Linked DNA regions of Homo sapiens: regions 2 and 3 are each linked to region 1. The links come from fine-mapping of genetic effects on gene expression. A gene starts in region 1. Each other region holds a variant in brackets. All regions are shown on one strand. Distances are between the middles of the regions. Region 1 holds the start of PDE1C (phosphodiesterase 1C). Region 2 has its middle 170 kb from the start of LSM5. Region 3 overlaps PDE1C (phosphodiesterase 1C).

Region 1 (5,000 bases):
AAATGTTATTCCAAGTTGTATAAAAGAGTGTGTGCTTTGGTTTCCAGAGTCTTTAGCTATTTATTCTAGCACTGCTGTTATGTTTAAAAAGAAGAAGAAGAAGAAGTGGTAAGGATCACATACTGGTAAAAATATGTATAATAATAACAAATAATAGCATCTCCTTTTCAAATTAGAAAGTGAAGCTATAATCACCCCACACTTTTCATGTTCAAAAGCACTAGGTTCTGAGTAGATACAAGAGACTAGAAAATGAAAATGTAGTTACATTACACTGCAACACCTTGGAGAGAGAAGCCTAGCAGATATGAAACTGAGAAAGCTACACGACGCAGTGTTGTAAGTGCTAATGCTTTTCCACACAAGTTCCCGCCTCAGCATTGCTGATTTGACCAAACACTTGTCTCTAGCCCAAATGTCTCCATGGAGTCGGTTTAAATTGAAAAGCAGTCCAAGAGAAGAAGTTCCTGGGTGTATGGATATGAATCCCTCTAGTCAGCATGGCAAGGAATCCAGCTCGACAACGCTTTCACATTATACACTTTGGGCCCAGACTTTGTGGACACAACAAACTTTCTGTGTGCAGCACAATACAATCGGACGTAATGTTCACTAAATATAACATGAGATTACTGTAAACACCACTCCGAGAGCTGCTGCGTTGCAGGCATCTAAACTGTCAGGAAAGCCTGCCAGCCAGAGACAAGGTTTCCAAATAAATTTACAGTCTCCACTAGCGGTGGCTAGACAAGTCAAAAATCAAATTATTTGGCATGGTTTCCCATTGAAATCAATGGCAATGAAGCTCACTTGGACTATATATGGAATGGCTTTTATAAATTGCACCTGTCAATAAGGACCCCTTAAAGAAACACATACTACCTTAATGCTTCTCCTTAGAAACTTTGAATATCAAGCTAACTTAGATCAACACATTTTTTATTTGTCTTTTGTTTGTGTGTGTGCTTTCAAAAACAATAACAGCAGCAAAACAAACAAACTGGCAGGAAGCTGGTTTTCCCATCAGTGCCCTTGTTAGAAACAGAATGTCTAGAGAATATGCTTGGAGAAAAGCCATATTTTTAAACCACACTAGATATCTGATGCCAAATGACTGATGAAAGTAGTATCTAGTAGTAATGGAAGGTGTCTTTGGGACCTGCCCAGTGACTGAGGAGCAAGCTGTGAATATACAGCTATCCCTCAAGCTCCTGACTGGAGTGACCAGCAGTTCACTGATGATGAAATATTTTTACAGAAAATACCATGTATTTTCAGGTCACCTCTCCTCAGTACCCAAAAACAGACAGAACCCAATGAAGTGAATGAAATTCAGAGATCTCCATCCATCAGGGCAACTAGAATTCTGGCCACTCTATTTCATTGTTCAAATATTGCAAGAAAACCCCAATATCGTTTCTGCCCCCCCTTTCTCCACAAGAGCCTTTCCTTCTAGTAAACATTTCTCCACCAAAAAGAACCCCAGGAAATATCAGAAGTTCGACTGGGCTAAGGAGAGGGAAAAAAGAAATGTAGCAGCCAGAATGCATGTTGAATTTTAACTGTTGGTAAGTTCTTGGACCACCTGCCCAAGTGTATGCAAGCAGTTTGCAGAGAAAAATTCTTCCTTCAATTAAAAGTCCCTGTCTGGGTCTCAAACTTTTCTCCCTGGGCAAAAAGGATCAGAAACACCTCATTGAGTATTGGGCCACCATAACTGACTCATCAAAGGACATCTCTCCTTCCCCCCAAAAAAGCATGACTTGGAACAGCAAGGCATTCTAAGACAGAAAGACAACCCTCTCTGTGTTGGAAGAAAAGTAGCAGTGACTGTAATTAACAGAGCAGCAGTTGTGGAACTTCTAGGGTTGTATTTAAAGGCCCATGCAGGAACAGGGTGAGCAGTCGTGACTGCGGCTGTGTGGTAAAATAAGGATGGGAGCGGGAAATGGGGCAGGAGAAGTAAATAGGTATACTTACAGCCCGCGGAGCCGAAGCCAGATTTTCTCGATCTGTTCCGGTTGCAGGTATTTCAGAGAGTTGCTCTCAAATTCTTCAATCTCCTTGGTTGGCGACTCCATAGCTGCAGGTAGGTGACCACTGGCGGTGAAGCTGAGATAGTTTGGGCTGTCCCCTCCCCGTCTCCTCGCCCAGCTCGCGATGCCCAGCCAGGCGCGGCGCGCGTTTGCCCGGCACTTTCTCGGCGCGCTCCCCCTTCTGCGCCCCCAGACTCCGACTTAGAGCGGACTCCGATCGCGGCAAACCATGGCCCCAGGTGCGCTCCGGAGGCAGCTGCGGGAACCAGCCATGGTCCCGGGCTAATGCCCAGGGATAAGCACAGGGATAGGGATAGAGATAGGGATTGGGATTGGACTCCAGCTCCAAGAGAAAGCACCTCGGGTCTATTCGTATTCTCCCCCTACCCCCAAACAAAGCCACAGAAGCGATCAGCGCGCAGCTAAAGGGTTTGGAGGTGAAAAGGAGGGCTGGGTGGGGAGGAGAGAAAGTGAGAAGGGAGAGAAAAGCGGCGGCTGAGCAAAGCGGGAGCCGGCGCGGGCGGTGGGGCCTGACCCGGACGCCGCGCACCCGGCTCCGCCCCGCGCCCAGCGCCCCGCTCACTCCCTGGCCGCGCCTGCCTTCGCGCCCCTCTGTTTTCTCTCACTTACCAGCAGCTCTGCTGACAAGCGAGAAAACTGACAAGTGAGAAAAGTCGTCTGTCAGCGCCCGGGCTGGTGTCTGGGCTGTCACCGCGGGCGCGGAGGGAGGGGCGCGCGGGCACCGCCGTCTGCCGGGCACACGCTGGGCTCCGACCCCGGCCGGGCACACTCACCCCCGCAGGGCAGCCGCGGCCACCACCGACCTGCGGAGCTGCGTGGGCTTCCGGAACCCTCACCTCAACAAGAGCTCGGCTCCGCGCGCAAGTAGGAGGGAAGGGAAATCCTTATCCTCCCGGGGCCAGGGCACGCAGAAGCCGCGAGGCTTCGCGGAGGTTGGGCCTGGAGGTCCCCCACAGCCTCACTCTCGCACCCGCCACAGAACCGGATCCATTTTGAAATATTGAAGCGACTGATGGGGACGAAGGGAACCACACACCACACTCAAAAACTCTTGATGTTTTCTTGCTAAAGGGGCTCTCTCGCTCGCGCTCTCTCTCCTCCCTCATTCCCTCCCTCCCTCCCTTTCACCCCCCCACCCCCATCTCTCTCTCTTGTGCGGAAGAAAAGGAGAAAATATACCAATAGTGAGGAGGTAAGTTTCTTCAGATCAATATCACACGCTACTCAAGAGGGTCCCTCCTGGGTGCTGGCTGGGCGGCTGTGGATGGTGACAAAGTTTCAGCTCCACAAAGCTGCAACTCACTGTCAGGGTTCCCCTAGTTCATGAACAATGTCAATAAGGTAGAATGCTCTGGAAGAACGGGACCAGGTATGAAGTTGGGAGTCAGGGAGGGAGGACAGATGAAGAGAGGAACCAAAGACTGGGGGAATCCATGCCCAAGATGATTGCAAGCGACATCACAGAAGGGTCCGTCAAACTTCCTTCTAGGTGAAGCCACCACCAGGGGCTATTTCAAACCTGGCTCTCAGGGTTCCTGAGATTCAGGGTGGGGCATGCCCTATACAGTATTTTTCCTCAATGACAGGTAATACTTCTTTCCATCACACTCTCAGAATTATTTTCCTATCTATTAGATGATTACCTGCTTCCCAAAAGCATGATAAACTTAGAAGTGAGGACTAGTTTCTCTTCACTGCTCAAGTAAAGTTCCATTCACCTGACCTTAACAAAGGAATAAAATGGTCTCTAAATCATAAATGCTCACCCACTTCATAATTGGCATTCATTTTCCAGAACTTAGAGGTGAGAGTGATGAGGATGCTTGGCTGGCCCCATGCATTCTAGCAGAGAAGGTAGTAACTCAAGGTAAGACAAAAGACCTGTTTGATGAAAAACGACTTACCTACTCACCTGCCAGGTAAATCTGAAGTCGCCCCATTAAAGGCAGCCTTTTAAGGTTTATGGAGGCGCATATATTTTCACTGAGTTAAGGTATTATTACTAGGCAATGGTAACATTAAGCAATATTTTAACATGGAGTTCATCTATCTGAATAAAACCAATTACCCTTCCAGTGTCACCCAGCAGAGAAACAGTGCCCTGGGGAAATAGAATGTCACAAGAGGAAATTTTTATAGTGACGTGTTTTGAGAATGGAAGACAGCAGCATGGTCCCCAAATGGGGTATTTCCATTAGTGTGTGCACCTTGGGCAGCCTGCTGGCACCATGTGGAAGTACAATAATGATAATAACAGCAAACAAGTGTCAGAAACTTTCCATAGCCCAAGCATTGTTCTAAGTGTTCTACTCTCATGTAATACTCGAGACTATTCTATGAGGTAGATACTATTATTATCATCCCCATTTTACAGTAAGAAAACTGAAGCACCAGGAGGCTTCCTAGACCAACTAGAGAGAAAACTGAACTAGAAAAGACCAGAGTTTGAGTTATGGCTGATTACCTTATCCTATACAAATACATCCCCCTCACAGAGTCCCATTTTCCACATCTATAAAGTGATACATTTAGGCAAAAATATTTTTATGTTGTTTTCAGCTTTATGATTCATTGAGGTCATCTGGAGAGACTTGGAAAAAGAAATTGCTGAAAAGAGAGACGAATAATGCTGAATTCACATTTTAACTATGTCATAGTTTCTCTAAGTACTGGCCTAGGATGAAAATATACAAAGGAATATTAAGCATGATACTTACCTTTCACTCCATACCACATCTATGACTTTTTCCTACTCTTAGTGGAATTTTGATTGTCAGAGAAAAGCAAATTTTGGAAGAAAAAGGAAAGAAATCGACTTTTGCTGCAATTAAGCAAATCAGAGAGAAAAGAGCAAAAACATTTTTTTTAAGTTTTTGAAGCTAGATTTTGTTTCATTTGAGAAAATTTCTTACAAAATTAATGTGTATTAGAAAGTCAGGAAAA
Region 2 (5,000 bases), 250 kb after region 1:
CTCTAGCAACATTCCACAGCTGCCAGGGCCCCACACCTAGGGGCAACTTGTGGATACGTAGAATCCAAACCAAACCCCCCTTCTGAGTGTGATAAAATCCCTCCAAACCCCGAATGGCCTCACCATGTTTCGAGGGGTTCCCTCCCTCTAAACATTCCCCAAACCGCTCAGCCCAAGCACCAGGAACCTCATTTTGGGAAAACACGGGCTCTTCCTGCCCAAATCTCGCCCTCTAGGGAGCGGCTCTCCCTCCGCCGCGGTCTACACAGCTGTGCTTACAGCCTGCACCGCTGGCTGGGTGCCCGCCACGCACAGAAGGGCAGTAGGAACACAAAAGGGTGTGGTGGCCAGGGACCCAGAAGAAGTGAAAGGGGACCTGCGAGCGGGGAGTTTTCTGAAAACTGCACAAGCCTTCTTGGGCAGCGTGGTGTCTTTTCACCAGGACGCAGGTGCCTCTGTCTGCCAGCGGTGACATGGGTGAAGGGCTGCGCGCGTGAGCAGGAATAAAGCGAGAAATCACGACAGAGTTGGTCACGAGGACATTAAGATGCATTACATTTGCCCGCGTATCTACCTACAAAAAGAGCCACGGCAGAGGCCTTCTGTGTGACCAAGACCTCTACGGGAAGGGCGACACGGCTCACTTCCTGGCTGGGGCTCTGGCACTGGAAACGCTTAGGAAACTCCAGGCTCTGGACTGAGGTTCGGGAGGGCTGGACTTAAATCTTCGCTCCGCAATGGCTGAAATCAGCGTTGGTGCATTGAGACTTGGTTTCTCATCATTTCAAAAGAACCGGTGGTGATTGTCACGTCCGTGCTCCCTTAAGCTGTTGCAAGGGCAGAGGAAGCAGGCGGGAGGATTTGACCCATGTCCCTCGTTCTCCCGCGCCCTCCACGCCGTCACCCGGGAGCTGCAGTCCTCCGCAGCCTCCCTGCTCCCGACGCCTGCCTCTTTCCGTAAAGAAACTAAACGTGATCTGTGAGGTGCAGGGAGATGACCAGAGCGCCACGTGCTTGGAGACCGTTTTCGGACACTTCACTAGCTCCTCTGCCTGACTTTTGCTCCTGTGCGCTCCCTGCCCAGCCCTTTCATGGCGGGCCTTCCACCCTGCCCCTGCCCCTTGACTTGGTGTTCCCAAGGGCTCTGCTACACTCCCCCAGTGATGGCATCTGTGCCCTTGGGTGCTGTTGACTCTTCTCCCTCCAGCCAGCACGAGAAGGGACTGGAGCCATTGGGCCGTGGGCAAGCCATCACCGGAGAACCAGCTGGGAAAGTTAGGGGATCTCCCCCAGGCCCCTGGATTGATCCCCACCTGACACATGTTCCTGCATCCTGAGGGCCATGGTCTAGGGGAGGCAAAACGGGAAAAGTAGGCCAAACTCTGCTATAGAATGCCATTTGCCACAACTCTGTGAGGAGTTACAGTGACTCCCACCTTTCAGGTGGAAACACAAACTCAGCTTATGTAATCTGCTCAAGGTCACAGAGCTCAGAAGCAGCAGGCTTGGAACCCTGTCTTCAATAGGTCTCTGCACTTTTCTTCTTCCCAACAGCGACCGCTCTGGGTATGAAGGCTGAAAAGTCAAATGGATTCTGAAGTGAAATTGCTCCTACAGACATTTTTCTTAAGATAGTGTGTAATTGCACCTATTTCATGTTGACTAAAAGTATTTTCCCTCTGTTTTGTATAGTTTTTATGCCCCTTGAACATAGATAGGTAAAAATTACTTATCTCAAAGTCCAAAAATGAGTGGGATGGATAAAAGAGGTCCCAGAGTCCCACGGTCTTAGGGACAGAGCAAAGCTTCCCTGCCTACGACACAGCCAAATTGGGGAGGGGATAGGTGGGGCAACTTGAAGCCAATTCAGTGAACATTAATTTGTCACACAGCAGTTCCCCACACTACCAACTGACAGATTTTTGCCTCACCAAATCCTTATTTGTAATAACATTTTGTAAAGTTTACTAAGGTTTGTGTTTCATTTTGTATGTGCAGTATATTTTTACAATGACCACTGCTTGTATATTTTGAATTTTAAGTATCATGCTTGTAACAAATATCAAGGGTTTTCTATCCTCTTGGTTAGTCGATTTGCTTTATTGATGGAAGGGGGGAAAACAGGTAGAACTGGGGAACAACACACACTGGGGCCTGTGGGAGGAGTGGGAGGAGGGAGAGCATCAGGAAGAATAGCTAATAGATGCTGGGCTTCATACCTGAATGATGGGGTGATCTGTGCGGCAAACCACCATGGCACACGTTTACCTATATAACAAACCTGCACATCCTGCACATGTACCCCTGAACTTAAAAGTGGGGGGAAAAAGGTAGAGTTAAAGGGATTATGCAAGGAATTGTTCTAGGAATATTGTCACACTTTCAACTGCATGTGCCCCCACCAGGTGCTTAGGCACACACATACACACACACACACACACACACACACTTCCACATAAGCAAAATAAAAGTTTCACATATGTGTTAATTTTCATATGTCCATGTCAATTTAAATATGCTTAAGGAAAATTCCACTATTCATATAAACACATTGAGCCTCTCAGGGAAAGAAACTTAGAAAAGCAGAGCAAGGAAAGAAGCATTTATTGAGCACCTACTAAGCCCCTAGGGCTCTGTCCTATATTGTCACCAGAGCTGCATCTTCCTGAAACCCACGACCACTTGACAGGGAGGTATGTGTCATAATCCCCGTTTACAGAGGAGTAAAGTGAGACTCAAAATAAAATGTGCATCACAGACCTAGGTCACCCACTACAGAGTCCTGATTCAGGCCACCAATTTTGGAA[T/C]GGGGAGAGAACGAAGGTGAATCTCACAATCCAATCCTGATCCCTGTGATACAGCAGTCCCCCATCTCTTGCTCTGATCTACTCTCATCAGCTGAAGAACAATCGCTCAGTGACAAAAGAACAAAAATCTCAAAGAGAATTACACCAACCTCAATAACTATGCAGGTCCTTAAAAAAGACAAATTAAGACCCCTCATTTCTTTTGTGATACAGCCTCTCTTTAAGCACAATCACAGAGCAGAGCCTGCATTGTTAGCCCGGCTTTGATTTACAAAAACACAGCGCAGATGAGTTTCAAAAGGAAGAACAATTTATGAAAGGCAAAATGACAATAAATGTAGGAGGAGAAGAATCAAGGGGTTGGAATCTCTAAACCATTGTAAAATTACTTTTGGGTGGCTGTGGGAATATTACTCTACTATGTTAATTTCTCCAGCATGCATAAAATAGATGCCCCTTACTTTTGGGTGGCTGTGGGAGTGTTACTCTGTTATCTTAATTTCTCCAGTATGCATAAAATAGATGCCCCAGAGTTAAGGAACATTCCTGACTTCTTCCTGCTTCTCTTCAAGTGAATTGTTCAATTAATTAAAATCCATTATATTCCTAAAACTTCAGCAGACACTGGGGAGGAGAGAGATGGAATTTTGATAGCAGGTCTGCTACTAACTTGAGATGTAATCAGCTTAATGCTGATTTATTTTTCACATTCAGTTTCTATACTTACCAACTGGCATAAATTTCCCAGGGCAGGGTTTTTTCTACGAATGCTTCCTGAATTAATCCACCTATCTATCCACATTCTACAAACCCTAGAAGTTCCCATTTCAAACCCGATCAGTTGTTCAAATCTCCTTAATCCAGCCCACAAAGATCACTTCTTCTCTACCTCTGTTTGCACTTTTGCTCACATAATTAGCATGTAATAAGTACATTAAATGTATTAAATGTGTGCTATGTGACATGCACCAGATGCTATGATGGGAACTAAAGACAAAACGAGTAGTAATAATAGTTGAATTCACTGAAGGCCTACTAGGGGAAGGTGTGGTCTAGGAACTTTTATGTATATTAATTTATTTAGTCCTTATACTCTATAAGGAATGTCCTACTATTACCCTAATTCTACAGATGAAGTAAACTGAGCTATCCAGTAACTTGCTCAGGGTTACTCAGATTATAAGTGATAAAACAAGAATTTGAACACAGATAGCCTGGCTCTAGAGCCTTGGCAATTAATCACTACTCTACAGCAGCCATTCCTGGCCCACGTTCAAAAAGCTCATAATTGAATAAAAGACAGACATGTTAGCCAGGCACAGTGACCTACATGCCTCCCAAAACCAGCACTTTGGGAGGCCGAAGCAGGAGGATCACTTGAGACCAGGAGTTTGAGACGAGCTTGGGCAACACAGAAAGACGCCATCTCTACACACGTAAAAAAGAAGTTAGCCAGGCCTGGTGGTGCATACCTGTAGTCCCAGCTACTCAGAAGCCTGAGGCAGGAGAATCACTTGAGCCCAGGAGTTCAAGGATGCAGTAAGCTATGATCACACCGCTGCACTCCAGCCTGGGTGACAGAGCAAGATCCCATCTCTATTTTTTTCTTTTTTCTTTTTTTTTTTTTTGAGATGGAGTCTTGCTCTCTCACGCAGGCTGGAGTGCAGTGACATAATCTTGGCTCACTGCAACCTCCGCCTCCTGGGTTTAAGCAATTTCCTGCCTCAGCCTCCCAAGTAGCTGGGAATACAGGCGCCTGCCACCACACCTGGCTAATTTTGTATTTTTAGTAAAGACGGGGTTTCAGCATCTTGGCCAGGATGGTCTTGAACCCCTGACCTCAAATCCACCCTCCTTGGCCTCCCAAAGTGCTGGGATTACAGGCGTGAGCCACCATGCCCAGCCTCCCATCTCTATTTTTTTACAAAAAGACAGATGTAATCAGAAGGTGACACAAAGGGTTGCTATGCTTCAGTGGTTTGAGGAAAGGGACCAACAAAGACTGGGAGGGTCTGGTAGGAATTTCTCAGGAAGATACAGGGGTGGGGAGAGATTTAAGGCATTTTTTAGTTTAGCCAACTAAAGTGACATGTAACATCAAATTTCTCCTAGCTCTACCATTCTGTAGATCCATGAGCAGGATTGTATCATAACTTAAAGAATAACTTTTCCTGGGTTTACAAAGAATGTTGT
Region 3 (5,000 bases), 43 kb before region 1:
CACAAGTAACAGCTTGAAACCCAAGGCCAGGGTCCAGATGGGTGTAGAGACGAGCTGGAGTGGGAGTTGAGGGTAGGGGGATTAGCAGAAACCAGTGGGGCATGCAGACTATAATTAGGAGCATGTATGTATTTGGGGCTTGAAGACATTGCTAAACAGCTGAAGGACACTGCTCAGGAACATGAGAAGCTGATCCCAGCAAGGCTGGTTGACGTTTCCAAGACTGGACAGAAAACCTGAGGAGGCTGGGAGGAGTGGGCAGTGCCAGAAAAAGTGAGAGCAGCAGCTCTGAGCAAGCAAGTCCTACCAGCATCATAAATGAGACGAAGAGCTAGGTTTGCCATGGTCAGGATTTTGCCACAGCAGGGAGAGGATGTTAAGATCAGTTACTGGCTGGCTCAAACTGACATGCCCATAATTACTTACTGAGCGTCCATGTCATGAATGGAGTGCTCTATCTGTACATACAGCCAGAGGTCATACAGTGAAGATAGTGTCCCTGCTCCACTTCTCTGTTCACAGGGGAGCATCTTCTCTCTTTGATCATAAGGAAGAGGAGCAGAGCACCTACCTAGCTGTGCCTTTTCAGGCCAACCACGTGCTGGCAGCGTCTGTTCCTTGTAAGACCTTCCCAGGAATCTGCTCTGCTAATGAGGCCCCTCTACCTGACAGCTGGTTACACAAGCTGCTATCAGAAAACAAAAGCTGCCTGTTGAGGTAACCAATATTTCCACACCTCACACACAAGCGTGTGCATGCACACACATACACACATACACACACACGCGTGCACTCTCCCCAGTAAAATTCAGAAACCATGCTCGGAATGAATCAACCACCAAATGGAACAAAGGCTGCCTCCAAGATAATTAGAGTTTGGACTGAACTGAATTTTTTCTGGCTTAGACTCAGCATTCCCACTTCTTTGGTTGCCAGCCCCACAGCCTACACAATAGGCACATGGGGCAAAGCTGGCTGCAGCTTATAGTTTTAGATGAAATGCTGGTAATCCATCCTCTGGTCTGCCATCTTCTCTTATCCCTCAGTAGCAACCACAGAAGACATTCACTGTCGATCTCAGAACATCAAGAACATACCTCGGTCCATTCTGCTGAGACAAGAGAATTCCAACTGAACCACTGATTTGGCCATATTAAGACAGTCTTCACCATTGCACACCTATTACAACGGCCAAAATACAAAACCCTGGCAACACCAAATGCTGTAGAGGATGTGGAGCAATAGGAACTCTCCCTCATTGCTGGTAGGAATGCAAAATGGTACAGCCACTTTAAAAGACAGTTTGGCAGATTCCTTCAAAACTAAACACACTCTTAACATCAGATCTGGGAATCATATATTCCTTGGAATTTACTCAGATAAAATGAAAACTCAGGTCCACAAAAAATGGCAGCTTTATTCATAATTGCCAAAACTTGGAAGCAACCAAGATGTCCTTTTATAGGTGAATGGTTAAACAAACTGTGGTACATCTAGACAGTGGAAAATAATCCAGCACTAAAAATTAAAAAAAAGAGAACATCAAGCTATGAAAAGACATAGAGAAAACATGAATACATATTGCTGAGTGGAAGAACCAAATCTGAAAAGGCTATATGCTGTATGATTCCAACTATATGACATTCTGGAAAGTATAACACTATGGAGACAGTAAAAGGATTAGTAATTGCCAGGGGTTTGGAGGAGGAAAAGTTGAATAGGCAGAGCACAGAGAGTTTTCAGGGCAGTGAAATTGCTTTGTATAACACAACGATAATAGATACATTTCATTATAAATTTTTCCAAACCTGTAGAATGTACATGACCCAAAGTGAATCATAATACATACTCTGAACTTCGGGCGAGAATGATCTGTCAATGTAGGTTCATTGATTGTAACAAATGCTCCACCCTGGTGGGCGATGCTGACAGTGGGGGAAGCTGCACATGTGGGGATGGGGGTTATTATGGAAAAATATCTGTACCTTCCTCTCACTTTTGCTGTAAACCTAAAACTGCTCTACAAAATAAAGCCTATTGATTAAAACAAAAATCTTCAGAGACTGACAAAAGTCAAATCAAAAATATGTTGACATGCAAACTTAATGGTGTATTGTGTGGGTTTCTGTTTGTTTGTGCTTATATGTGTGTTTAAATAGATACCAAGTTATAGCATTCTAGAAGAATGCTAAATTTACCAACATGGAAAAACATAAGATTCCAAATTCACCACAAATGGAATGCCACTGCTTCAATTTTCTTTGCAAAGGCAGAAAAAAAAAAAACTATCAAAAATGGTAAAAAAAAAAAAAAAAAAAAAAAAAAAAAAAAAAAAAAGACTAATGGGAAGAAATTTTTATCAATCAAAAATCACCACTCTGATCCTCTACCAAGATGAGCCTGACTGTTATGAGCTGCGTTACAAATGACTGCAAAAAAAAAAACTTTTAAAAAAATCTGCTGTCTATTAGGCTAATCTAGTGATTGCCATTTTCCTCAAATTCTTCATTTGATGTTTCCAAAGCAACAACAACAAAAAAATCTGATGTAGCAAGCCTTACACTGAAATCATATTAAATCTTCAAAAACCAATCAGAAAAAAAGCATAGGCAAGTCTTCTTGGGATTCAGACTTAATCACCTTTAGGTACTAAAGGTGGGATTAGAACTTAAGTATGTCTCTAATAAACAGGATGATGCAAAATCAATCCTGGCTCACTGCCAGTCTTCCTCCTGATTGACAGCTAGAGCAGGGCTGTCCAACAGCAAGACACCCTGAATTGCAGACATAATTTAAAATTTTCTAAGTAGTCATGTTTTATAAAATAAACAACTGAAATTAAGAGCATATTGTATTTAACTAATAGACTCAATTATTTATCATTTTAACATGTGACCATGGTAGCCACATTCCAAGGGCTCAAGAGCCACATGTGGCTAGTGGTTACCATATTGAACAGCAGATCTAGACTTCCAGTGTAAATCTAACAGG[T/C]CCCAAGCTTCTCCCTTTCAAATATGTATTTATTCATTCAAACACACAAAGTCTCTTCATATGCTTCATTATTCCTACTACTGGAGGTTCACCAGAGTCAGCAGTAACAGTGCTTGAGTCACACCTTCAATCTATGCAAACCATAAGAAAGATTAAGCTCTATGCCAATGTGAAAACCAGCTCAACTTCAGTTTCTTATTGTTATTATTATTATTACTAATTTATTTCCAGTATATATCCTTCCCATTTCTTTATCTTAATTTTTATTACATATTGACTATTTGTAATTATATATATTTATGGGGTACAAAGTGATGTTATAATTTATGAAAACAATGTGGAATAATTAAATCAAGCTAGTTAACATATCCATCACCTTAAATACTTAATTTTTTTTGTGGTAAGAACGTTAGAAATTTACCCTCTTAGCAATTTTGAAATGTACAATATTATTAACTATATTCACTACACTGTGCAATCGATTTCAAAAAAATTCCTCCTGTGTAACTGAGATTTTGTAACCTCTAACCATCAATTCCCCATTCCTTCCCTTCCCCCCAGCCTCTGTAGCCACCATTCTATTATCTGCTTCTATGAGCTTCGTTGTTTTAGATTCCACATCTAAGTGGAAACAATTAACAAGGTACGGAGACAATCTACAGACTTGGAGAAAACATTTGCAAGCCATACATCAGATAAGGTATTAATATCCAAAATATATAAGGAGCTCAAACAATTCAATAGCAAAAAAACAAAAAGCCTAATTTAAAAATGGGCAAGGGACCTAAATAGATATTTCTCCAATGAAGACATACAAGTGACCAACAAATACATGCAAAAACAAATTCACATTGTTAATTATTAGGGAAATGCAAAATAAAACCACAATGAGATATCATCTCAGATGGAGAAAAAAGGAAATCCTTATACATTGTTGGCAGGAATGTAAATTAGTACAGTACAGCCATTATGGAAAACTATACAGAGGTTCCTCAAAAAACTAAAAATACAACTACCATATGATCCAGCAATCCTACTTCCTAGTATTTATCCAAAGGATTTGAAATCATCTTGTCAAAGAAATACCTGCACTCCCATGTTCAATGCAGCTCTATTCACAATAGCCAAGTTACGGAATCAACCTTTTCACACTGTTTGGAAAAACAAAGAATTTCTCAACTAAAGTTTATCTTTGTGATAGAATAAATCAAGAAATAATAGGTGCAAAGCCATCTAGGGTCTGCAACAAGAGTGGAGGTAAGTGTAGTGAGGGGTGGGAGGAGAGGAAAGAAGGCAGAGAGGAAAGAAAGAAGGGAGGGGAAAATATCACAGCAGGTCATAGAAATTACCTCAAGGCATCGAGTTTAAGAGCAGGATTCCCACATTCAATGACTTTCACCCAAACAGGTAATGCAACCTAGGTTTAAAAAATTGTGTAAATGTTGTAAAAGGGATTTTCAAGGCAATGAACATTGATTACATGCACCAATACATCTGAAAGAGATAGAAAGCAGAGTTTAGCCAATACATTTGTGCATTTTAAAGACTGTCCCTTAATAAACACAATAATGAGCCTTCTTATATTGCTGCAACATTATTTATCACAGTAAAGAACTCGAAACAACTTAAGTGCCTATCATTAAGAGAACATCCCAATTAACCGTGATTTAGCCATACTGTAAACTTTTTAAAAAGAGGTACATTTCTATGAGCTGACATAGAAAAATATCCAAGCTACGGGTGAGTGAAAAAGCAAGTTGCTGAAAAATGCATATTATAACACACACACACACACACACACACACACACACACACACACACACACAAAGTGACAATAGCTATAATCTCTCAGGAGGAACCTGGGATAAGTTGGTTGTGGGGATAGAGGAGGAATCAAAGAAGACTGGACACTTTGGTCTTCTCAGTAGTATTTTTTTAATAAAGAAAATGTATTCAGATTTTACTTAGAGAAAAAGAATGATTTTAAAACAATAGTACACACCCTCAAA

Evidence for each region. PIP is the estimated chance that this variant, and not a neighbour inherited with it, causes the effect.
Region 2: its variant is the best candidate, but not a certain one, in a credible set for the expression of PDE1C in subcutaneous fat (GTEx, PIP 0.77).
Region 3: its variant is the best candidate, but not a certain one, in a credible set for the expression of PDE1C in fibroblasts (GTEx, PIP 0.51).

What each region holds. Positions count from the first base shown.
Region 1 is chr7:32,068,313-32,073,312 of GRCh38, forward strand. PDE1C (phosphodiesterase 1C) reads right to left here and starts at 2,095. Exons shown (of 18, transcript NM_001191057.4): 1 at 1,981-2,095. The coding sequence starts at 2,081.
Region 2 is chr7:32,318,200-32,323,199 of GRCh38, forward strand. It overlaps a transcript of PDE1C not described here. Among named protein-coding and RNA genes, the nearest start is that of LSM5, 170 kb to the right of the region's middle. The variant T/C (reference allele first, on the strand shown) is at 2,808.
Region 3 is chr7:32,025,309-32,030,308 of GRCh38, forward strand. All of the region lies in intron 2 of PDE1C (phosphodiesterase 1C), which reads right to left. Among named protein-coding and RNA genes, the nearest start is that of PDE1C, 43 kb to the right of the region's middle. The variant T/C (reference allele first, on the strand shown) is at 2,992.